Linked DNA regions of Homo sapiens: region 1 is linked to region 2. Evidence: fine-mapped expression QTL. A gene starts in region 2. The other region holds a variant in brackets. All regions are shown on one strand. Distances are from middle to middle. Region 1 overlaps LOC101928236 (a long non-coding RNA gene). Region 2 holds the start of CCNL1 (cyclin L1).

The links. PIP is the estimated chance that this variant, and not a neighbour inherited with it, causes the effect.
Region 1: its variant is fine-mapped to the expression of CCNL1 in whole blood (INTERVAL, PIP 0.94).

Annotation. Positions count from the first base shown.
Region 1 is chr3:157,246,603-157,264,212 of GRCh38, forward strand. The region is part of intron 3 of LOC101928236 (a long non-coding RNA gene); the gene reads left to right. It overlaps VEPH1 (ventricular zone expressed PH domain containing 1), which reads right to left. Exons shown (of 14, transcript NM_001167912.2): 14 at 13,140-14,768. The coding sequence ends at 14,532. It overlaps LOC105374179 (a long non-coding RNA gene), which reads right to left and starts at 4,448. Exons shown (of 3, transcript XR_007096142.1): 1 at 4,007-4,448; 2 at 2,329-2,419. RefSeq lists enhancers at 564-6,496, 9,135-9,666. The variant A/G (reference allele first, on the strand shown) is at 9,413.
Region 2 is chr3:157,155,097-157,163,270 of GRCh38, forward strand. It overlaps CCNL1 (cyclin L1), which reads right to left and starts at 5,051. Exons shown (of 11, transcript NM_020307.4): 1 at 4,696-5,051; 2 at 4,309-4,383; 3 at 3,770-3,879. The coding sequence starts at 4,998. It also overlaps the pseudogene KRT18P34. RefSeq lists enhancers at 4,263-4,332, 4,966-5,695, 5,783-5,832, 5,853-5,912 and a silencer at 4,473-4,682.

The DNA of each region.
Region 1 (17,610 bases), 96 kb after region 2:
GCTCCCAAGGCATCCATTCTCAATTACAGAAAGCATCTCTCAATACCCCTCTCAAGGTTGTAGGTCTGAGATTATTGTGTTGTGCCTCCACAGTGTTCCAGATCATCAATTTAGCCTCTGGATATTTTCAGCTTTCTCTGCCGACAGAGCTCTGTGTGCATCTGCTATTTTATTTATTTATTATTTTTGAGACAAAGTCTCACTCTGTTGCCCAGGCTGGAGTGATCAAGTGGCATGATCTCGGCTCACTGCAACCTCTACCTCCTGGGTTCAAGCAATTCTTCTGCCTCAGCCTCCCGAGTAGCTGGGATTACAGGTGCCCACGACCACACCCGGCTAATTTTTGTATTTTAGTAGAGAAGGGGTTTTGCCATGTTGGCCAGGGTGGTCTCAAACTCCTGACCTCAGGTGATCCACCCGCCTTGGCCTCCCAAAGTTCTGGGATTATAGGCATGAGCCATGGCGACTGGCCATGCTATTTAGTTTCATCTTCAGGAGGCTCTTTGCCCTCTTAAACTTTGTATCTGAAGTGGCCTTACTTTGCTCTGCTCCTGTCACTAGAACCCAGAAACCTCTGAACTTCCACGTATTTCCCCCGAGCCTGTCCTTTCTAGTGGTTTGAAATTTAAAACAAACTGGCTGGACTTCAGCTTAGTTAATGGTGGCAGAGAACAAAATAGACATAATTTTCATAATGACTTTTTCATTTTGGGGGACATCACATTTTTCACAGCAGCTTTTGGTTAAACAACAGAGGCAAAACCTTCACTACCTCCCTAACTTCCTGTTTTTCTGAAACTGATATCCTGCATTTGGAAATATATAAATAAATAATAGAGAATCCTGATTCCACTTGGATAAGCCTTGTTTGAAAGTTGAACAGTCTGTCCATTCCTCCACATTAAAATATATTCCTGACTCCATTGTGACTTACTGCACGCTGTCTGTTTGGGCCACATGGTTCTGAGCACCCACCCCAGTCACTTTTATTTTTTTCTATGTACTAGCATTGTACTAGTGGTTTTCCTGAGGAATGTTATTTTGAAACATTGTAACAATCAGTTTGTTTATAACAATCAGTCTGTTAACCCATGTTTTTTTTTTTAGTTCCTTGTTATTAGTTTAGTCTTCTGCAGTGCCCTTTGGCCCATCCCCTGGCCTTTCTACCCCTTCAAATTAGGCAGAAGGCATCCATTGCCTCAGAAAAAGGATGTTGAAAAGAAATCAGAAGTAACAGTAAACTGTAAGTTTCAAAAATCTATTCTGAAACTTACCTGTTAATACTTTGAGAAAAGTAAGATTAAGTCTCAAAGGTCAGGATTAAAATTTTTTGACTTTTATTTTTAGAGACAGGGTTCTGTTCTGTCACCCAGGCTATGGTGCAGTGGTACAGTCATTGCTTACTGCAACCTCAAATTCCTGGGCTAAAGTGATCTTCCCGCCTCAGCCTCCTGAGTAGCTGGAACTATAGGCAAGTGCCATTGTGTCTGGCTAATGGAAGTCAAAATTTCGAGGTTAAAAAATTCATAACTCTGGCTGGGCATGGTGGCTTACATTTGTAATCCCAGCACTTTGGGAGGCCAAGGTGGGAGGGTTGCTTGAGGCCAGAAGTTTGAGGCTGCAGTTAGTTAGAATTGTGCCACTTCACTCCAGCCTGGGCAACAGAGTAAGACCCCGTCTCTCTAAAAATAAAACGAAATAAAATAAAAAAATAAAAAAATTCATAACTCTGAAGAACTAGATTATGAATCTTGTGGCATAAATAATACATTTGGAAGAATACTTGTTGAGAAGAGAAACTAGAAAAAACCTGAATAAATGGAGAATATTCTGAGTTTGACTGAGTTTATCCTGAATCAATGAACACTGCTTTTTTTGCTCTCAAGTGAAATGGGATCCAGCACTCAAGCAATAAATTAATTAAAACATAAGGAAATAAAGAAAATTATATTATTTGTATGTTTGAATTTGTAACTAGGGTTTGCACCCTTACATATCCTTCTGAAACATGCTGTTGCACTTATGGAGAGATATTGAAGCTGTTGTTACTATATTACAGTGTTCTCTTTGTAAGGCCGATAGGAAAAAAATTCTTGGGTCTCATTGTTGAGAGAGCTTTTCTTCCTCTGGGCAACTGGTTTATTTTTAGCCTGGGGAAACTCTGACTCATGAATCTGATTGAATGCCTCCCTTAACTGGCTGCATGAAAGCATGGTGTCAACTCTGAACGCTGTCTTTTGCTGGGATCGAGTTTCATCTACTTACCTTATCCCAGTGACTATTCTTCTTCCCACTTTGTTTTCCTTTTGCCTTTATGTCTTTACTTACTCTCAATCTGTTTGGACTTCCTGGGAAGCAGACTCTGAGGCAGTGTTTAAGGCGCAGGATGCCTATTAAGGAGCACCTTGGGGACCAACACCTGCAGAAGGGAGTGGAGAGGAATCAGTAAGGGGCAGGTGGAGAAACTGAGCTTCAGTGTCGCCCCAGTGATAGTCTCAACTGACCATGTGGAGAGCTCTGCAGGTAGAATGGTCCCTCAGAGTTGTCTCAACTTGGGCCTGAATGTCCAGGTCTTTACACTCTCCCATTAACTGTTCACTAGATGTCAGGTGCCCCAGGCATGACCTTGGCCAGGAGGCAGTCCTTGAGGGGAATGGCAGCTGAAGGCTGTCTGCCAACAGCAGTCCCAGCAGCTGGGGCACCAGGTCCTTCAGTGAGGGATGTTGGTGATGCATCAGTGCCCACCATACTTACTTTAAAAAATCTAGTATATATTTCTACAAGAATTTGGAACAAAAACACCAATAAAATAAGTAATTAAAGTTAAGTGACTCTTGTTCTCATCCTTGCCCATTTATGTTGTCTCATCTTAAGTGTGATCCTGAGTCTTGGCATATGTCATTTCTCTTTTTTGACTGTGAGAGTGTGAAAGGCGAGGTCTAAAATATAAGAAAATTATATTCTTCCTTCAACATCCAGCATATCATCAACTCTTCAGTGGAGGTTTAGTTGACTCCCCAGGCAGAGCCAGCAGCCCCCTCCTCTGTCTCCATCATGCCCCCACATCACAGTGTTGTGATCTCCACACATCTGTTTCTTTCATGGGCAAGATGTCCCTCAAACCTGATCCCTTTTGAATGCTCCTTTTATCATGAATGGAGCTACCGCCAACCCACGGGTGCCGGGATTCTGGAGACAATTCCCGTCAATCACCAAGTCCTGCAATTTGCATTTCTAAAGTCTCTCTCTAACCCTCTATTTCTCTCCATTTCCAGTGCTGCTACTTTCTTTCAAGCTTTCGTTATACCTCTCACCTGGACTATTGTAATAGCCTTCTATTTTTCTCTCAGTTTCTATTATTGCTTTCTCAGCAAACCATTCTCTACACAGCAGGTAGAACCATCTTACGGAATTGCAGATCTAATCATACCATCCCTGTTTTAAACCCAACAGTAGCTCTCCCACAGCCTTCATGACTTGCCCACCTCCCAGCCTCACCACTCTCATCCACCACACTAGCCTGTTTTGGTTCCTCTAATGTGCTACATGCCTTTTCTCTCCAAGGTCTTCTCACATTCAGTTCTTCCTGGTCTGCTTTTCTTCTACCTCTCCCTTTGACTAGTAATTTCCTGTTCATCTTTCAGATCTCAGGCATATGTCTCTTTGTCCAGGAAGCTGTCCCTAACTTCCTAATTAGATCAGACCTCTCCTTTCACAATCTCATATCAGTTGTGCTTCTTTGTAGGATAGGTCGCATGGCAATTTCATAATTAAGATAATACTTTAACATTTTTCTCTTCTACTAGGATACGTATCCCACAAAGTTTGAGACATCTTGGTCACCTCAGCATTTCTAATGCCCAGCACAGGTCCTGCACATAGGAGATGTTTTATGTATGGATTTACTTATTAAATAAAATATACTTATTGTGTTGGTCCATTTGGGCTGCAATAACAAACTGTCTTAGATTGGGTAACTTATAAACAACAGAAATTTATTTCTCACAGTTCTGGAGGCCGAGAAGTCCAACATCAGGGTGCTGGTAGATTTGCTGTCTGGTGAGGGCTTGTTCCTCAGAGCTGGCGCCTTCTAGCTGTGTCTTCACGTTGGGAAGGACAAACAAGCTCCTTTTGGCCTCTTTTATAAGGGCACTAATCCCATTCATGAGGGCAGAACCCTCATTATCTAATCACCTCCTAGAGGCCCCACTTCTTAATACCACCACATTGGTATTGACATATACTACTACCTAATGGTTTTAACATATAAATTTGGGAAGGGGGGTCACAAACATTCAGATCATAACATTTATTTACTGAGTTTGTTAAAGGCATGGACAATTTATTTATCATTTTTGAGTCCCCATGCCCTAGTATATGTTGGATGCTCAGTAAATGGTCTCTCCTTTCCTTCCTTCCTTCCTTCTCTCTCTTTCTTTCTTCTTTCTTTCTTTCTCTTTCTTTCTCTTCTTTCTTTCTTTCTTTCCTTTCTTCTTTCCTTCTTTCTTTTCTTTCTCTTTCTTTCCTTTCCTTTCTTTCTTTCCTTCTCTCTTTCTTTCTCTCTCTTTTTCTCCTTTCTTCCCTTCCCTCCGTCCCTCCCTCCCTCCCTCCCTCCCTTCCTTCCTTCCTTCTTTCCTTCCTTCTTTCTCTTGCTATGTTGCCCAGGCTGGAGTGCAGTGGTTATTCACAGGCACAATCATACTGCACTATATCCTTGAACTACTGGGCTGAAGTGATCTTCCTACCTCAGCCTCCTGAGTAGCTAGGACTACAGGCATGTGCCACCATGCCTGGCTAATAAGTATTTGTTGAATGAATGTTTGAATCAAACTATGTAAAAGGTTGTCTTGGGGAAGAGGGAGCAGACATTATGTCTGGCTGCAGGAGGGAGAACCTGGACTAAAGGTTAGAAATGATGGAACGGCAGAATTTTTCAGAAAATAATTATATGGTATGAATAACCTAATGGGAATTATATTTGAACATTTCTATATTGTTGGGTTCTGAATGATCAGACGATTATGAATAATTTTTATAATTTTAGTAGTTTTTGGTATTTTCTGCAATAAACGTTTTCATAAACAGAAAAAATTTATTTTAAAAAGATGTGAACTGATGATAAATTAATGAGTTCTCTATCCCTAGAAGGGTTTGCGCGGTTGGGAATGCCACCTGCCAATGATGACAAGAAAGGGACTTCTCCATGGGGTGGAGAGGTTTGGCCTGGCAAGTGTTAAGATTCTTCCAACTCCAATAGCCTGTGATACTGTTAACTGAATGATAAATGCCAAATCTCCTTGCTTAGAAGAACTTGGCCTAGTTTATTTGGCTGCCTCACATTCTGCTAGTGGCTTCGTTACATTGGAACCTTACTGTGACACTATTGGCTACAGTGGAATTTGATTTGTATTTACCTGAGGATGGTACAACTGCAGGATTTCTGGAGATGACAGTATTATAGTGATAACAAAAACATGAATATATAGGTAAGAGTTGTTTATGTGGAAAATTACATGATATCCCTCCATGAAGAGTTTGGGGGAGTCGTGATGAAAATGTTCTCAAATCAACACATACCCTTAGTATTATGGTTAATTTTCCAAAACAGGCATTGCCAAACTGTGGTTTTGGCTAAATTTTAAAAATGGACCTTCTGATTTTTGTGTTTATGAGCTAGTTTGGCAAACAGAATCATTGTTTCTCTCTCTTAAGAGAAATGACATTTAGACTATTTCCTCATATAGCAATAGCTCTGAATTAAGAGGGAACAGAACACTCCCAAAGGAAATCTGGTGTATAGAAGTGGATCTCCGTTAAGAATAGTGGAACACACATAAGAGTTTCTTCTGATTACATGAAGTGCCAGCAGAGAGAGAGAGAGAGGAGAGGGGGAGAGGGAGAGAGAGAGAGAGAGAGAGAGAGAGAGAGAGAGAGAGAGAGAGAGAGAGAGGACAGATATAAATAGAATATAAGATAATGAAGTAATAGGATTGATTTCTACAAAGCACATGTGAAAACAATAGTTCTGTTGTCATAATACCTGTGTGATAGTAAATGTGTGTTTATATATATGTGTGTGTGTGTCTTATAGATATTCTACTTAATGTTAGTGAAATGGTAGTTAAAAATAAAACAAGGCAAAGAATAATTCTAGAATAATTCAAAAATGGAAAAATTAGAATTTACTTTTATTAGCACCCACTCCCCCTTAATTTCCAGTGTGGTCTCATGGAGCACTGTTATTCCTAGGCATGCATTAGCCTACCATGTGTTTGAATACTTTACATTTTTACATTATTTGAAAATTTTATAACTCTTCTAGATTCTCAGTACCAAAATGAATTCTAATCCTTTTATTGCTTGAAAGACAGAAAAAATGCATTTTTAAATTTGATGTAAGATTTTCAAAGATTTGTCCATAAAGTCATAAATAAGCTATGTAAACACAATGCATCTGATTATCATTTTATAGAAAGTTCAAAGATTTCCATCCCCCCTGCTCTCAGAAAGTTTTTCTTTGAAGCAGACAAATTCAATAGTACTGGGGTGCAGGGGCAAGGGGCATGAGAAGAATGTTCTTGTGGAATGTCCTCTGCCAAGGCTGGGGTTCTCATGGCGGGACCCGGGAGCTAAGGTTATCATCAGAGCTGGTTGCCTGTTGTGCTTAGCACGTGGCTATAGGGCCTTGCATAACCAGGGACTAGAAGGACATTTATGAGGAGGTGTACCTGTTTCATCAAAGAACATTTAACAGAACCCCCCGCCCCCCCGCCGCCACTTCGCCTAGGCAAGTACCTGTAAAAATCAAGCCATAAGGGTGGTCTTGCTCTTCTGAAGTTCGTGCAACCCTCTGCCCATTCCACTCACTCTGCTCTGTGCCTTTCTCTGCTCTTCCCTGCTTCTCCAACTTCCGACTTGACTCTAGGCCTTGCCTTTCTACTCCTGTCTTTGGTATGGTTGACTTTGAAGGTGTCATCTGAAAATGCTCCTCCTACTTGATCTGGAATTCCTCCTCAGACACCATTCTAAGTTCACCTCTAGGGTCCCCAATCTGTGATAGTGGGTAAAAGACATATCATATTTTTATGGTTTTGGGTTTTATATTTAAATCTTTAATCCATCTTTGGTTAATTGTTGTATATGGGGTAAGGAAGGGGTCCAGTTTCAATTTTCTGCATGTGGCTAGCCAGTTATCCCAGCACAATTTATTGAATAGGGAATCCTTTGTCCATTGCTTGTTTTTGTCAGGTTAGTTGAAGATCAGATAGTTGTAGGCGTGCGGTCTTATTTCTGGGTTCTCTATTTGGCTCTGTTGGTCTATGTGTCTGTTTTTGTACAACTATCATACTGTTTTGGTTACTGTATCCCTGTAGTATAGTTTGAAGTCAGGTAGCATGATGCTGCCAGCTTTGTTCTTTTTGCTTAGGATTGCCTTGGCTATTTAAAATCTTTTTTGGTTACATATGAATTTTAAAATAGTTTTCTTTAGTTGCGAGAATGTCAGCAGCAGTTTAATAGGAATAGCATTGAATCTACAAATTGCTTTGGGCAGTATGGCCATTTTCATGATATTGATTTTTCCTATCCATGAGCATGGAATGTTTTTCCATTTGTTTGTGTCATTTCTGGTTTCTTTGAACAGTGGTTTGTAGCTCTCCTTGTAGAGATCTTTTATCTCCCTAGCTAGCTGTATTCCTAGGTATTTTATTCTTTTTGTGGCAATTGTGAATGGGAGTTTGTTCCTGATTTGGCTCTTGGCTTGACTGTTGAATGCTAGTAATTTTTGCACATTGATTTTGTATCCTGATACTTTGCTGAAGGTGTTTGTCAGCTTAAGAATCTATTGGGATGAGACTATGGGGTTTTCTAGGCACTATCATTTAGGACATAGGCACAGGCAAAGATTTCATGATGAAGATGCTAAAAGCAATTGCAACAAAATCAAAAATTGACAAATGGGATCTAATTATACTAAAGAGCTTCTGCATGGGAAAAGAAACTAACAACAGAGTAAACAGACAACCTACTGAATGGGAGAAAATTTTTGCAAACTACGCACCCAACAAAGGTCTAATATCCAGCATCTATAAGGAACTTAAACAAATTTACAAGCAAAAAACAAACAACCTCATAAAAAAGTGGGTAAAGGACATAAACAGACACTTCTCAAAAGAAGACATACATGTGGCCAACACTCATGAAATAAAGCTCAGTATCATTGATCATTAGAGAAATGCAATTCAAAACCACAATGAGATACCATCTCACGCCAGTCAGAGTGGCTATTATTAAAAAGTCAAAAAACAACAGATGCTGGTGAGGTTGTGGAGAAAAAGGCACACTTTTACACTGTTGATGGGAATGTAAATTAGTTCAACCATTGTGGAAGACAGTGCAATGACTCCTCAAAGACTTAGAGGCAGAAATACCATTTGACCCAGCAATCCCATTACTGGGTATATACCCAGAGGAATATAAATCATTCTATTACAAAGATGCATGCACATGTATGTTCATTGCAGCACTATTCACAATAGCAAAGTCATGGAATCAATCTAAATGCCCATCATTTGGGCAATGATAGACTGGATAAAGAAAATGTGGTTCATGGAATATCATGCAGCCACAAAAAGGAACAAGATCATGTGCTTTGCAGGAACAGAAAACCAAATACTGCATGTTCTCTTTTATAAGTGGGAGCTAAATGATAAGAAGACATGGACACATAGAGGGGAACAACACACACTGGGGCCTTTCGGGGAGTTGAGGGTGGAAGGAAGGAGAGGATCAGGAAAAATAACCAGTGGGTACTAGGCTTAATACCTGGATGATGAAATAATCTATACTACAAATCCCCGATGACACAAGTTTACCTATGTAATGAACCTGTACTTGTACCCCTGAACTTAAAATGAAAGTGAAAAAATAAAAAGACACACCGTGTGCACCCCTGCCTCCATCTCTGCTATCTTGGCCCATTCTTTACCCAGCTTCCCTTTCAGGAAAGGAAACTTGGACAAAGGAGAGCACAGGCAGGGGGATATAGAGACCATAAACATGGCTTGTATGTGGACATCAGCCATCCTTAGTCCTGTCAAAAGAGAGGGTAAGCAACTATAGGCAAAGCTGACCTCACACCTTTGAGGATGGGCGCACTGGGGGCATTTTAATCATTATGTTTTAAAATTTGTTACATTTGCAATATGCTCTACTGTTCACAAAAATGTTAACATACAGTTTTGATTACTGTGAAACAAACCTGTGTGGAACTCTTAATACTTCCTTCTGCTAACTGCTTTACATTTTCTTCCCCCACATTTAAATATCTCTGAAATTAGTACATGTTTTACAATCACTATGCAGTGGGAATGGCTGTGATGGGGTTTCTGTTGTTGCCTATTGATGTGCAAAT[A/G]CTATCTTAGCTCTTTGTGTTGTCACATCCATTCAGATATGTGGATAGTTGACAGCACACGGGCTAATTGCTGTTTACTATGTCTTAAACAGGTTACAATTTGGTTTGACTTTGAAACAAAAAGTTATCATGTACACAGAAAAGCACAGAAGCAGAGGAGTGGAATGAAGTGTGATATTAGTGAACGAAAGAGCCAACATTGAAGTGACCACAGTTCCATATGGTCTTGCAAAGCAACCACTGAATGTTTTGCCTAAAAAGGAAGACATCAACATGTAATTATCATTAAGACATGGTATCATAGTTACTTAATGGTACATAAAAACTGGAGTGTCTTTTTCAAGCACCTATTATGTTAAAGGTTCTCTGCTGGTTAAGGTTATAGGTTTTGTGCTTTTGCACGACATGTGTGTCTCACATCAATTCCACTCTGTGGATAATATTATCCCCAAACCAGGGATGAAGGATGAATAACTGTCTCAGGTTGGTAATCTAGTTTTGATAGAGTGAGGGATTGACTCTTCACGTGCCCAGAGCCTGTGCCCCTTTCCCTACCTTGGTAGACGTCTTCTGGATTTTCCAACCCCTTTGTCTTTCAGGAGCATCTTTGGGAAGGATTTGTTCCAAAGGATCTATACTCTGGTGCTATTCTGAAACAAGATGACAGTTTGTTTTTTTCTTGGTTTCTCTTCTAAAAATTTAGATTTTGGGAACTGGAAATCCTTATTAGGGCATTTAAACCATGGTATTTATTTGTCTGCAATGCACTTTGAATTCAGCTCACATTCTCTCACCTTATCTCACAATTGTTTCCTAAAGTGGGTAATGCTTCCTTAAACATGTAATCCTTATTTATGTCTGAGAATAAGTCATCACCACAAACAGGTCTGTGGGTACCTATGGAAAGTAGGTGAGTTGGAGATGACCCAGTAAATGCCCCTTGACATCACCAGCTAAGGATTTTCTAGAAAGCTCAGTATTAGAAAAGTATTGAACATTTGTTTTTACCAAACTCCAGGTTCTCAAGAAGTAGCTAGATAAGCTTCTCATACATAAACATTTATATTTCCAATGCTATCTGGGAGGGAAAAAGAATAAAAATTAAATTAAAATGAAAGCCACTTCAATTTCGGTCCATGATTATAATTTTATTCATACCAACATTTTTAAAGGTTTAAGCATGTTTAGGAAAGTGGTTTCTTCTTAGATCGGGAAGAAATGGCAGCCCTTTTGGGAAAGGCCGGTCTGTGGTAAACTCACCAGCAACCAGGGTGGAAGTGCCAGAAATATTCGCGGGAAGCTGATGATTCTGAGATTCCTAGTGTGATTCTGAACCCAGGAGAATTTACTTGCATTGGAATTATTGCATCATGGAATGAAACCAAAAAGTTCATTATTTACACTTCACACATTTACTTTTTTTAAGATCTGGCTCAAAGGCACTGAGAATTATGTTGTAGATTAGAGGCATCCAGTTAATTAAATCACAAGGACTTTGTAGCAAGTAGTAAAAATAATTCTTTCCCCACAAATTGAGCTGAGGGGGCCATTCTCTTCTTTCTGAGGCCAAACATTCAGCATAACCACTGTTTTACCACGAGCTCTCTGCTGTGAAAGGTTTAAGCACACTGTTGGCATTCAAATTTTTAATAGCTAATGCAAGGTCACCTAATACTTTGTCAGTGTTTGTCTGTTACCAATTGTTCCTAATTGACTAAAACAGCTAGAGTTATTCACTGACTCTTAAGTATGGGGCGGTAAGTTTTAAAAGAATATTTAGAGAATCATTTACAACTATACTCATTCTCATCCTTTTCGTGCCCAACTTCACAGGAGTTGTCTGTCTGCAAGGTTAGTCCCCTATCTGTTCCCTGAATGTATACATCAAAATTAAATTTACCATCTGCTTATCTCTCAAAATGCTGCTTCTGAATTTTCTATTTCAGTGAATATCATCATTATCATCATCTACCAAGTTTCCCAAGCAAGCACCTAGGGATCAGCAGAAACTCTTTCCTTTCCATTCCCATACTCCAACTCCATCCAATCCGCCAGTGTTCTGTCCATTTAACTAAATCAGTATTTTTCCTGCCTGTTCATTTATCTCTATTTCCTTTGGTACTACATCAGTCCAGGTCCTCACTACCTTAGAAGAACCTCCCAAATGGTCTCCCTGCTACAATTTTTGATATTCTTATAATCCATTCTCTATACCACTATTAAGATTACCTTTCTAAATGCAAATCTGCTTAAAACCTTTTAATGGTGCTTCATCATCTTATTTGTGATTTTTTTTTCTTTTTTATCTTTATTGCTGCCACACAAATTAATGCCTCATCATGTTAAGGAAAAAGTTTAGACCCTTGGCATGGAACCAAGTCCTAAATCCTGTGGTCCTGCAGGCCTTTTCAGCATGACTCTGAACCATTTTCCATACACCCCTTATGTTTCAACCCTAGGGAAAAGCTTACGTTTTGCAAATGGACCATGTTCCTTCTCCCTCTTTTGCATTTGTAGCGTGGTTCACCCTACTGACCATTTGCTCCTTGTTTGTCCACAGCAATCCTACTAGTTCTTTAAGACTAGCTCATTTTCTATCACCTCTGGGAAGCAGTGAGGGAGTCCACTCTGAGTTTAAAGTCACTTACAATGGTGTCTTCTCTTGTGTTTCCACAGGACCCTGTGCATACCTTCATCAAGGCACTTGCTGCGTAGCACTTATATTTCTGTTGTACGTATATGTCTCTTCCACTAAACTTTAAACTTCTTGAAGAGAAAAACTGTGTCTTTTATCTTTGTATCTCCAGGCCAAGCATGGCAACTGTTGCTTAGCACCTGCTCAGTTAATTGCTGCAGAATAAAGGAGTTTTAATCCCTTCCTATCACTTCTGGAAACTTTACTCAAGCAAAGTCATTTTTTTCCTCTTTCTTTCTGTATTTTTAACTCCTTCATCTTTCCCTTAATTCTTACTCATCTTAAAAAGAGCAAGAAAACACTTGCTCCATCTTAGCCCCTTCATCGTAGCCCCATTTTGTTGAAAGAATAGTCCAATTATTGCTTTAAAGTCCAAACCTCCCATTGACACTTCAGCCTACTAAAATTTGATGTTTACTCCCTCACTCAAATGGAATTGTTCTTCCCAATGACACCAATTGCTTCCTGATTGTGGAAGTCAGGCTTTATCTTAAGTGATTACTCTTCAGGATTTCAAATTGTTGCCCTGTTTTTCCTGAAAAATCCTTATTAATTTGGCTTTTGTGACATTGTTTCTCCTGGTCTACATAATCTCTCAACACTAATCAGATACACCAGCTGCCTTTACTTAAATGCTGGTGTCTCAAGGAACCCTTATTAATTCTTTTGTCTTCTTATTCTCTCTGGGTAATTTCATCTAATTTTGCATCTTTGGTGACTACCTATATATCCAGTGATCCTGAATTTTGACCTCCAGAACTCTATTTCCAATGTGTAATAAATTCTGTGACTCACAATACCCTCAAACTTTACTTGTTAAAATGGAATTGTTTCCTTTCGCAAACATGGCCCCTTTTATATTTCCTATCCTAGTAAGTTAGCAGGAGGGTCAAGGTGTTGACCATTCATAATCTTTCTCCAGGTTTCTATACTAGACTACATAATCAATAAATTTCAAGGAAAAAGTTATCCCTTGTATGTAGCCCAACTTAGCTTTTGTATTAGTTAACACTGCATAACAAATCACCACAATTTAGATTTAAAACAGCATACATTTATTATCTGAAAGTTTCTGTGGGTCAGGAGTCCAAACGTGATTTAGCTGGGTCCTCTGCTCAGAGTTTCACAAAGCTGCAAGCAAGGCGTTGGCTGGGGCTGGGCTTTTATCTGAGGTTCAGATGCTTCTTCCAAGATCACATGGTTGTTCACAAAACTTATTTCCTTGCAGCCGTAGAGCTCATGGCAGCTTGCTTATTTAAGGCTAATAGGAGAGAGAGTCTCTGACTGGTTCACTCTCTTTTAAAGGACTAGTCTGATTAGGTCAGGCCCACCCAGGGGATCTCTTTGATTAACTCAAAGTCAGCTGATTAGAAACCTTATGTATATCTGCAACTTCTCTTCACTTTTGTTATATAACATAACATAATATGGGAGAGATGATCCCATCACTTTTGCCATATTCTGTTGGTTAGAAGCAGGTTACATGTCCCACCCACACTCAATGGGGGAGAGGATTATACCAAGGCATGGATTATTGAGAATCACTCTAGAATTCTGTCTATCATAGTGTAATTATATATCTATGTAGTGAAAAAAATAGATGTTTGTAATTTGGAGGTATTAAAAAGTTGAATACAAAGAAAAAATTATAGAACTTTAAAGTCTTAATTTTAACGGAGATGGCACATTATTTTGAAGATAGAGAAAATGGCTTTCTATCCTTTTCCTATATTACACTTAGTGCCTTGGGCAGGATATATGTCCAAGTATCTAAACTGTAGATTATATTATATGAACTTAAATGGAATAATTAAATAAGTAATTCTGAAAGACAAGTATTTAATGACATAACTGGCTTGATTTGGGAACCATTTTACCATGTGTTAGCCTCAGTTGTAGTAAGAGAGGATCATGTAATTATATGTCTATAAGTAAGTTATATGGTTTTTCTCAGTGTACATTAGTTCAACGTTTCTAAAGGTTTTTTTTTTTAAAGTTTTCTTTTAATACCTTTGACAGACTGTGATTTTCATCAGAAGTGCTAATCTTTCCTCAGGATGGAGAGTTCAGGCATCTTTTCATGTTGTTTTCTCACAGTTTTAAATGACATATCTACAGAAGTTCTTTTATCAGTGACTTTTCCCTTCCTGGCCCCACACTATCTGAGGGCATACTCTGTAGCTCCTTTTATTTTATTTTATTTTTGTGGGCATCAGATATATTCTGAAGTCAATACTAAAGCTGTTAGAGTATGACATTTACTAAGAATCCTGCCATTTTAGGCCCTTCTTCTTAAAGGACAACAATTCCATTGGTATTTAGTAAAAAACAACATGGCTTGGTAAATTTAGCTCTTTTTCTTGACATTGGCAATGATAATACAATGCCTGTGGTGTATAATTGTCATGGCTGACTTATAAATCCCTACAGATATGTGGTTACTTCTCTACTTTCCCTTTCTTTGGCTTGGGCAACTGCCACGTTGATGCACTGGAGCCATTCTTCTGCATTCTTCTCATCCTTGGCCTTAAAGACATAGGTTTTATTGTCTGTGAAGATTTCGAAAGCCCGGGGGAGAGAGCGGTCCCTGCGTTTCTTGGCCACAGCCTTCACACTCTGTACTTTGCTGAGTTCTATTGGGCAGTCGTCAGGGTCATCTTTCTGAAAGGCATGGGAAGAAAAGAACATGGGCTGGCTGTTACTGTAGGCAAGGATCTCTGGCTACTGGAGAACTTTCTAAGAGGGCCAGAATCCTTTCACTTTTTATGTCTCAAGACCTTTGTTATTTTGGGTGCTAAGGCCTCAGAATCATTAGAATAACTGAAGGAGTGAGCAATTGGGCCTTTGTTAGAGTATCATAAGTTGACACAAGATAATTAATTTAAAGGATATTATTATAAAGTGGGATTTGGGAAAAATTCAGAGTTCTTTCATTTTCTATTAACGTTATATTAATAGAGCAAGGTGCAACGGTACAATTTGGAGTGCTATTAACTTATAACTTCAGGTAGTTTGGGAGGCATGAAATTGAATTTTCCTTTGTGCTACCTCTGAGAAAGATTTTGCCAAACCTTAATTGAATAGAGAGGCTTCCAGTGTTTGCATAGACCAAACTGTTTTTGAAACTCTCTGCAGCTTTGGAAGCATGCTTTGTCTACAAACAGTAAGAGAAGAAATATTTAATGATGTTACATTTGCCTTTTATTAAAGCAAAAATTTAAGGACCTCTACAATACCAAAGTCATCACACTGGGCTAAGATGAATAATTTTAAGGGGCCAGATATTTCTTTGAAGTAATTTCAGGTCTTTCACATGAATACATTTTGTCTACTAGAGAAAGTACCTGTGGTTGAGAATCTTGCCAATTCTCCTTGCCCACCTCTCCTGTTGCAATCACCCTCCTTTCACTTTGCAATGAAAAAGCATCCTCTTCACTCATCCCATACTTTCTATGATGTTTTGTCCAATGTAAACAAATCTCAGAAGCACCAAACAAAAAAGCAATTCCAACTATTGACATCAGGGAAGTATCCATCAGCCAAGGCAATGTAATCACTCCTCATCTATTTCATTATGAGATACATTTTCAATAATATTTCAATTTTTAATGTTTAATAATTATTAAGCTTGGCATTATACTTATGGATTTTCATGAAGGATATAACTTTTTAAAAAGATAACTAAATCAGAAAAAATAACACTTGGAGACGGATGGTCACAAGGAATTTAAACAATTAAATTTCAATTTATACATATAGTTTTACTCAGTGAAAAATGAAATGCCATTCAGGATAAAATGCTGTGATAGAGGTAGAACAGAAACATGATTTAAAAAAAAAAAGAGAAACAATGTGAACACTTCTATTTAAAAAAGAGTTAATTTATGTATTAAAAATAGTGTTAGGTGTTAAACTGCTATGGTATTTTAATCCAATGGTTACATTTAATGGAGAGATGTAATCCTTTTGTTTTAAAATGTCAATATTTACAATTCAACAGAAATTACAGTCCGGGCAAATGTTTAAACTTATGATAAAAGTGTTGCTGCAACTTAAAATGCTGCAAGGTATTACATAGATTTTTCAAAATTCTTTTAGGGTACACAGGATAAAGTTTGAAGACATACACACTAGACAATACTTTGTTAGCCTAATTTGGTTTACAGTAAGTATCTGACAGTAATAAAATTGCATTTCTTTGAAGTAGTCTATAGTACAGAGATTGATACGAAAATAAAAAGTTACCATAGTAATTTAAAGATGGACAGTGAATCAACTGAGACAGGAATAGATAGAAAGTCAAAGGACACTATTGCCTAGCTAGTTTGTGGAGATCAAGGTCTTAAAAATGCAAAAGTGAAAGATTAGAGTCTTCCACTAGAGTCTTTCAACCTCAGCTCTAATTTTAAAATGCACATTTCTTTCATTTAAAAGGGGCCCTTTTACAAGGACCTGAAGCTTCAGCAGGATTGTTGACCACTGGTAGGTTATTGTTTCCCTGGAGATTAGAGGTATTTTGCTGTGGCCTTCATGCTATATTAAATTATTTCCCACTATTTGAGCCGCAAGTTTTGTCAGAGTTATGGAATGTCAGACCATTATTTCCTGATAAACATGTCAAACAAGTTACCTAATTATAAAATTGCTTTTTCTTTAAACCTTATTAAAAAAGCCATGAATCAGAAAGTATAAAGGTCATTATTTGAGTTCAGAAAAACATTCTCATAGATTAACTCTGCTTTGTCTTAAGGGATCTGGAAAATTACTACGTCTTCATTTCTATTCTTGATTTCTTGAATAAAAACAGAAAATTCAGGTAGTCATTTTAAACACTTTAAACATGCTTTAGTGTGAACCTATGCTAAAAAAATTTCTTTAAGTTTCCAATAGCTGTCTAAATTGAACTGCCCTTTCAAAAAGATGTTCAGCTACAGAAAAGTCCATCTGTATATGTTATAACACACACAGATGAAGAAAGTAGCATGACTACACAGTAGGTATCACAAAAAATATTCTTTTTCATTCAAAAAGTTAACAGAAGTCTTATTAATTAAAAGAGCACTGGTCAGAATACACGATACTTGATTCATACTGATTAAAATGTTCAAATACATTTTATAATGAGTACTCTAAAGATATAGTGCATATGGCCGAGAATGAATTATAATTTTTAACTAATTTACCACTTTTCATTAATTAATTCAGACAGTTTGGTTTATGTGATGGTTAATTTATGTGTCAACTTGACTGGGCTAATGGGTACCCAGACAGCTGGGAAAGCATTATTTCCGCATGTGTCTGTGAGGTGTTTCTGGAAGAGGCTGGCATTTGAATTAGTGGACTGAGTGAAGAAGATCCATGCTCCCCATTGTGGGTGGGCATCATGCAATCTATTGGGGACCTGGATAGAATAACAAGTTGGAGGAAAGATAAATTTGCTTTTTCTTCTTGCACTGAGACATGCATTCTCTCCTGCCTGTGGATATCAGAGCTCCTGGTTTTG
Region 2 (8,174 bases):
AACTGTCATTAAGAGATAAAATAGCTCCAGTGTTACAGCTGCACACACCATTTTAACTCTTAACCCCTTGCAATCCAGACAGAAGACGGTATCATCAAAATCCCTAGTAAAATGTAATTTTATGAAAACATAGTTGTCTCATTTTTCTCCATTTGTTAATAAAAATTATCTATACCTCTTAAGATAACCTGCTTTAAGAACTGCCTTCAAATGGTGATATAATTCATTTGTTCTTGCAATTACACTAAAGAAGCTAAATATGTTTGAATTATAGCTACTATTTAGTCCCAAATCAGACTTAATGATGCCATTTTCTTTGTTTTTGTGTCAAAATGCCAATGACATCAAAATAGATTTAAGAAAACCAAACCCATTATTTACTATAATTCAATATATACTTAACTTCTTGCTTAATCCTGCTATTTATTACCTGCAATTTTCAAAGTTAACTTTGTGGGTATATAACCTAAAACCAGATACCTTTATTTTGTTCAGAATTGGTTCTACCTCACAAATCAACGGTGCACACGTAATTTACAACTACCTGGTAGAGATTACTTTGTATCATAAATTTAAAAAATATATCTCCATCAATCAGCAGTAAACAAAGTCTCAAAGTATACATTAGTACCTTCTGTTGCAACAAGCACATTAAATTAAGGCCTGCTAGAATTTCTTCCTCCCCAATCAGGTAAACTTTCTTTGCCAATAAAGTTTGAGGAGGTGGCATTTGAAAATCTCTTTAAAAAAGAAGTCTTCATCTATTCAGAGAAAACTCAAAAATAATTTTCATTATCAACACACAAACTAACTCAATCTCTGCTTTAAGTTTCTATTGTCCAATTTTTCTGATTTATACGAGAATTATTTTCAGCTTTAGAAAATCCTGGTCTTTGGTCATTAGAAGTTTATTATTATGGTTTGTTAGAGGAGCTATTTTCCTTTAGCATGATTATGTAATTGACATATAACTCAACAACAACAAAAATTACAAAGTCCAAACATGGTTAGTTTCATTTATGTGTTACAAAGACTGAGAAATATTGGAACCAAGTCTTCAAGAGACTATAACAGATTGGTAGTTTACAAAGAGGCATACTGCCAAGCAATATACAAAAATTTGTAATGCCTACTTAAAAGTAGAAACATCCTTTATAGGTATTTAAACAAACTGAAGGCCACCTTGTAGAGCCACAGAATTATACTGTAGAAAGGTGGTAGACTAAATGACATCACTTAACACCCTTCCAATTCTTACCTATCCAACTTTTATTATCTATGGATACACTGAAAATACATTGTATTTACTAATGAGAATGGTTAAACCAGTCTTTGAAAATTTTAATACGCTGCATCTCAAAAGTAAATATTTGGAAACTAGAACAATGAAAAAGCAATCCCCCCTCTAAATTTAGCTGTTTATTGTCAACTTAAAAGATAATTATCGAACCACAAAAAACTGAAGGAGGAATAGGCCAAACAATCCAGGTTGGGGACTAAGCACTGGTACTTTTTAAAAAGCTCCTCTGCTAATTCTCAATGTGTAGCCAGGCTGAAGAGACCAATGACCTACAAGCAACATGAATAATGTATCTCCACTGTAATTGTCAAAGTCACACTACAATTTAAAGTTATGAATAAACTAGATTAAAACAAATAGCATCATTAAGACAAGTGATATGCTTTACCTAACCAATGTATAATACTGATAGTACTTTCTAATGACATTAACCTATGCAAAAATAAATACAAAGCTATAGTTCTAATAACTTGGACAGCAAAGACAAAAGCTTATAACAAGAAACAGGAGTTTTTCTAAATGGTTCACCAGTGGCCAACCTGTTAGTCCCCGATTCCAGTGACCTATTCTCAGAGCACTGGCTTCTCCTTGGGGATTTTCGATACTTCACTCACTGTTGCCATGACGACAGCTTCATCTCTATGTACCACTCCACATCACCCAGGCTTTGGTAAATGTAGCTGGTCGCTGTATAGTCGGTTGCAAGGGAAAAAAGAGTTGAAGTTAATAACATATACAAGTTACGTGCTTGAGTAAACTTGTAATATGCATAGAAACACTTTTACATCCTGCTTTAAAAAAAGGCTTCCATGCAATTAACAACTCCTTTTAAATTTTGCTATAATCAGACTTCTAAGATTGAAACAAAATCAGTTTCTCTGTAATAATGACCCAAAAAACAAAGTTACATCAGACACAACAATCAGGTGAGATTATATTATTTTAAATTCCATGGTTTTTACAGTTAAGACCTATTCTAACATCAACGAAGTAAACTAGTCTCACAGGAAAATTCCACAGAAGATAATCATGTGATTACATAATAGTTGGCTCAATGGTTCAAAGAATACTAGAAAACCATTTCCTTTAAGCAAAGAGAAACCTTTGACTAAAGATAGAGCCTTGTATTAGTGTCATTACTTTAAACATCCTGAAGAATCAGCCAGGTATCTAAATACAGATTTAACCTCAGACCATACCAAAGACCAATTTGAAATCTTCCCAATTCCCAGGGACTCATCAACAAACTAAAAGATATTTTAGAATTTAAAAAGTACTCTATCCCTGGACACAGTTAAGGTGAATGAGAAAAGATGGGGGAGAAAAAGTATGTAGGAAAACTGTTGCAGACTTTTTGACTAGGATACTCTTTTTTTAAAAAAGAACTGTCTGTAGACTCACAGAATAGACTAGTCATCTTAAAGTTGCTTTAATATTTGCTTGTCTGAATAGTTCCATTACTGCCAACTTACAGATTCAGCCAATAAGGACTACTCATATAGAATACTAACAGCACTAACCAACATACCCAACCCCCAGAACAACTTATAATCCTTTTAATAACTTCCTTTCAAACTCAGTACAATTTGTCTAACATCACTACAATTCCTTAAAGAGTGAATGCAAAAACTATTCTACACCAAATATATCATTCTGCAGCATGTACTGGAAGTCACCTGTAGATGCAGGAAGTCCTGCAACAAACTTTTTGGTACTGCCTCACAGGAACACATAGGTCCACATAAAATTATGTTACCACAACACCTAGGAGATACTATTTCAGTCTCTGTATTTTCTTACAACATCAAATAAATGGCCCTATCTAAATGCAACCCAATCAATCTTACTTGTTAATTTTCTAACCCACTCACTGAGACTGTATCTAACCAAAACAAAATACCTGTTTAATCCCTTTGACTTCAAACTTCAAACTTTATCATCCTGCAGTCCTTTCAGATCCGGTATTATTCGATTTATCGTAGTTCAATGTTGAGAAGTACTCTAACAAAAGCCAACCTCAATTGATAAAGAATTAACTGGGACTTCGAGTAGAAAAACATAATCTACACAGAACTTTGCCACAATATTAACTTAAACTACAGTGTTTAAACTTCCAGCCTTCAGTCTTCCAGAGAGGGGAGAGGAAAAATAACTTACAGAATACACTCACACTTGAGCCAAATGTACTCCCTTTCTTGTTTAATCTTAAGCCACAGGCCTGGCTTCACAGCACTGTTAGGATTGTCCATAAATGCAACTGCCTCTACAAACTTTAGATAACCGGTTAATTATGTTTCTTTTTTCAAATTATTTTAAGTATCAGTGTTCCTATATGAACTTTAACACCTAAATTAAAGTCCGTTTTCTTTTGCATCCGTATTCACTTGAAAGGAAAGATGTTTTGATTTGATGACTGGTGCACGGTACAGCAGTAGCAAGAGATACTATGTTCAATAATGCCAATCTTACCTTTTTCCTCTTAACTGGCGGAGGTGGTGGAATACATTAATCACATCTCTTATTCTTCTAGGTGCTTCTTCGATTTTTGATGCAAGATTAATACAAGCCATAGCAACAATCTGAAAGAACCCATGAGCCACAAAAGCCATTGTTAGATTAAACTCACTTTGAAGAATAAAATTTAGAACACAATTGGGACAACCTTTAGTAAAATTAGAGAAGACATCTCTATGCCGTAAGTCTACCAGCTATGCTAGTACTATACTTTTTGTTGTTTAACTCATCTTAATTTTGGTTCCAGAGTCAAACTCAATCTTACAGGAGTTCTGCATTTGGTTGAAAACTGTACTTTTCGTTAAGAGGGCACTTAGGCTCGTGATCGATTTTGAACCACATTCTAAAGGTTTCCACTTCCTGGCGAGTGAGAAGTAGGTACAAAGGCCTAAACTAAACCACTCCCTTTCTGGAAAAGCTGGCTGCTGACACTACCCCTACTCTGCCCATTTCCGGATGAAGAAATCCCTTTTACCCGCCTCCGCTGTGCTTACCTCGAAACTGTGTTTGACGAAAGATTTGGAGTAGAAAAAACGATGAAACAACACCTGCCCCGTTGCCATCGCCACCTGCAGACAAGAGAGGAGAACGGAAGCGCAGGGGTCAGGCGGGCCCGCTCCAGGCGCCGCCGCCATTTTGTGCCGCCGATCGCTTCCCTTTCCCCTCCCGCCGCCGCCGCCGCTGCGAACAGCCCGCTGCCAAGTCCTCCCTCCGCCTCCGCAGCCCCCCGCCCCGGCACGCCCCGGCCGCGGCTGGGCCCCGAACGGGAAAGCCTGAAGGAACCGTCCCCACCCTCCCGGGGCACGGTGATACTGAGATGCGGCGTAGGGGACGGAGGAGAGGAGAGGAGCGCCCGGCCGGCCCGGGGCCGGAGCACTGACCTGCGGCAGCCGGAGGAGAATGCCGGCGGCCTGGATGAGCTCGCAGCCCAGGATGCGTAAGTCCGTCTCACTGGGCAGGTCGAGCCCATCCTGCATGGATGGGGTGGGCGAGAGCCTCTCCTCCGGAATCAGAGAGTGGTCGATGGTAAGTGAAACTTCCGAGTACAGGCGATCGCCGATCAGGATCCCTCCCGTCGTGGTCGTCGTCGTGGTCGTCGTCCCGGAGCTGGAGCCGCCCGCGCTTGGGGCGGCCGATGAGGCGGCTGCGGCAGCAGTAGCTGTCGAATGAGGCCCGGACGCCATAGTCTTAGCGAGCCGCACGCAAGCCCAACGCAGCCGGAACCCGAAACAAGACTAACCAGCGTTCTCGGCGCGACGGATATTCCCGTGACCGCCGGGTTCTGGGCCGCTTCACGCCGCGTGCGCTTCCGCCCTGACGTCACCACGCCGGGCAGCCGCGCGCCAACTAGTCCCTCCAGGCCGCGCCTCCGCCCTCGGCATCTGGGCCTGCGAGGGGAGTGTTGGGTGCTGCGACAGACCTTGGGATCCTCAGAGGCTGAGGAGGCCTTCTCTAGCCAAGGCCGGTCGAAACCACCTTGTTTGTGATAGCCACACGAATAACGGAGCTTTACAAGATCCCTTATACCCAAAATAGAGGTGGCAGCATTGGCTAGCATCTCTGCGCCCCTTCGCCCTGCATTCCGGCCTCTTCCTTTAGCCTCGGCGCGGCTTGCGTTCCGCGTGTACCAAGGGAAGTGGCGGCCGACCTGAGCGCGCTTTGGCGGGTGGAAGTGGTGACTTTGTTGTCCTGTGTGGACGAATGTGTAATATAAAGTGACCCTCAAGGAATCTGGAGAGGGCTGCTTTACAGTATTTGAAGAACACAGGGCTGTGGACCCTATCGGTTCCCAAATGAAAGCTCCCCGGGGAGCGTGTTTTTGCCAGTATGGGGAAGTAGGGCGGAGGCATAGGAATGACCGCGAGAGTGGCTGCTTTCATAGCTCCGCTTGCGAAACTCCTGCCCGGCCTTTGACACCGCCACGGCTTTCAGTAATCTGGAAAATCCCTAGTTTCCAAAAATAGTCTTAGGGCGAGGACTTGACAGAGGTAATTTGATTATGCCTGGGAGTCTCTATTCATACATGGTTACCTACCGCGGGTAGGGTGAGGTCAACCTCGTGTTTTTTGTTTTTTTTCCTGTGATATTAGCTAGCAATTTCCAGCGTTTCCTGAACCTTGAAGTAAAAACAATGATACTGATCTAAACTACTAGAATCTAGGTTGGAAGGAAAGGAATGCATCACGTTTTACTCTTGACGCTCAGAAAGCGATACCCCAAAGACAGAGGCTTTAGAAGCTGCCTCATAATGCAGGTCCCCCAACCTTGACTTGTTGCTCCCACTTTTCCCAAGTGCAGGGAGGTACTCTCTGAAATTTCCTTTCCTGACTAGAGAAGCCTCTTTGTAGAAGAATCAATCGCATTCCTCCCCTCGCTGAAATCTCGTATCCTATTTCAAAAAGACTCAGAAATGCAGCCATTCCTGGAGGGACTTTTTCACAAGATTACTCAAAAGAAAATTATTTACTAATTTCTGTCCATTCATTGTTCCTAATAATCATTTGCTGCTCCTCAAAATAAATGTCTACATTTCTCATCTACCCTTTCCCCTATGAAAAAAAGATATAAAATCTTCTGTACTCCATTAAGCTACTGGGTAATCATCCTCCTGCTTTTACCCCGGTGTTATGTATCCCTTTTCTCCTGTTAATCGCCTGTTATCAGTTGATTTTTTTTTTCTTTTTTTTTAGATAGAGTCTCACTCTGTCGCCCAAGCTGAAGTGCAGTGGCGCGATCTCGGCTCACTGCAGCCTCCGCCTCCGGGGTTCAAGCGATTCTCCCACCTCAGCCTCCCCAGTAGCTGGGATTACAGGCACACACCACCACGTCCAGCTAATTTTTGTATTTTTGTAGAGACGGGGTTTTGCCATGTTGGCTAGGCTGGTCTTGAACTCCTGACCTCAGGTGATCCGCCCGCCTCGGCCTCCCAAAATGCTGGGATTACAGGCATCCAAAGCGCTGGAATTACAGGCATGAGCCACCGCACCCGGCCTTATCAGTTGATTAAGTGAACCTTCAGTGGGCAAAGTTGTTTTAAAATGTACTGATACTTGAGCCTTGCCTGCAGAGGTTGATGTCACTGATTTAAGGTGGGCCCAGCCAGTGGTTCAGTTTTGCCTGTCTTCGAGTGATTGGAATGTACAGCCAAGAGAGTGTAATTATGGTGCTGGCAGAAGTATTAACCTATCTGGATGTCACTGTCTTCACTTTCTGACTAGGCTGCTTCCAGGGAATCTTTCCACCTCAATATTTATGAGATATCTATAATTTTATAACAAACTTTTAAAGGAGCCTCGGTTTCCTTAAACACAATTGATGACACCAGTTTTCTGGTTTTCTTCCATTTTTGTTTATAGAGCCAGGGTCTCACTGTGTTGCCCAGGCTGGCCTTGAACTCCTGAACTCAAGGGATCTTCCCACCTCAGCCACCTGAGTAGCTGGGACTATAAGTGGCACACCACTGTGCCTGGTCAGTTTTCTGGTTTTGATAATCTATGGTTGTGTGAGATATTATCATTGGGGAAAGTTGGAGGAATACATAGGAGTAGTCTATCTTTGCAACTTCCATGTCTTATTTCCAAATAAAAAGTAAAAACCCTCATTGATTATGTACTTCATTAAAACACTGGACTTCAATGAAATCATCACCTATATTTGTAATGACTTGAGAGTAATATAATTTAACTTTTTTTTTGACTTCTGAACTTTTTATTGGCCTCCTGCTCCCCAAAGGGTACCCTGCTTCTGATGGCTTAATGTCTCAGAACTTGGGTGTCGTTGGTCTCAGATACCACTTTGCCATCCACTATCCAGCAGATAGTGGTCTTTTGGATGGTTTGCATGGAGTTGCTGCTGTCCAGGGCATCACCAAGATTGAAGTCCTTGCCATCTTCCAGCAGGCGGCGGTAGGTGGCGATCTCAGCCTCTAGCTTGACCCTGATGTTCAGCAGGGCCTCGTACTCCTGGGCCTGGCACTGTCCCTCTGCCCAGGCCTGTGCCAGCTCTGACTCCAGGTGCAGCAGGATCCCGTTGAGCTGCTCCATCTGCAGGGCGTGGCAGGCCTCCACCTCCCTCAGGCTGTTCTCCAAGCTGGCCTTCAGATTTCTCATGGAGTCCAGGTTGATCTCCAAGGACTGGACTGTATGTCTCAGCTCCGTGAGCGTTATAGCAGCTCCAACCTCGACGGACTGCGTGGTGACCCCTGTGTTGCTCTCCTCAATCTGTTAAGACCAGTACTTGTCCAGCACCTATTGGTTCTTCATGCCAGCTCATCATATTGGGCCCGGATGTCTGCCATTATCTTGGTGAGGTCCTGAGATTTGGGGACATCTACCTCCACAGTCAACCCAGAGCTGGCAGT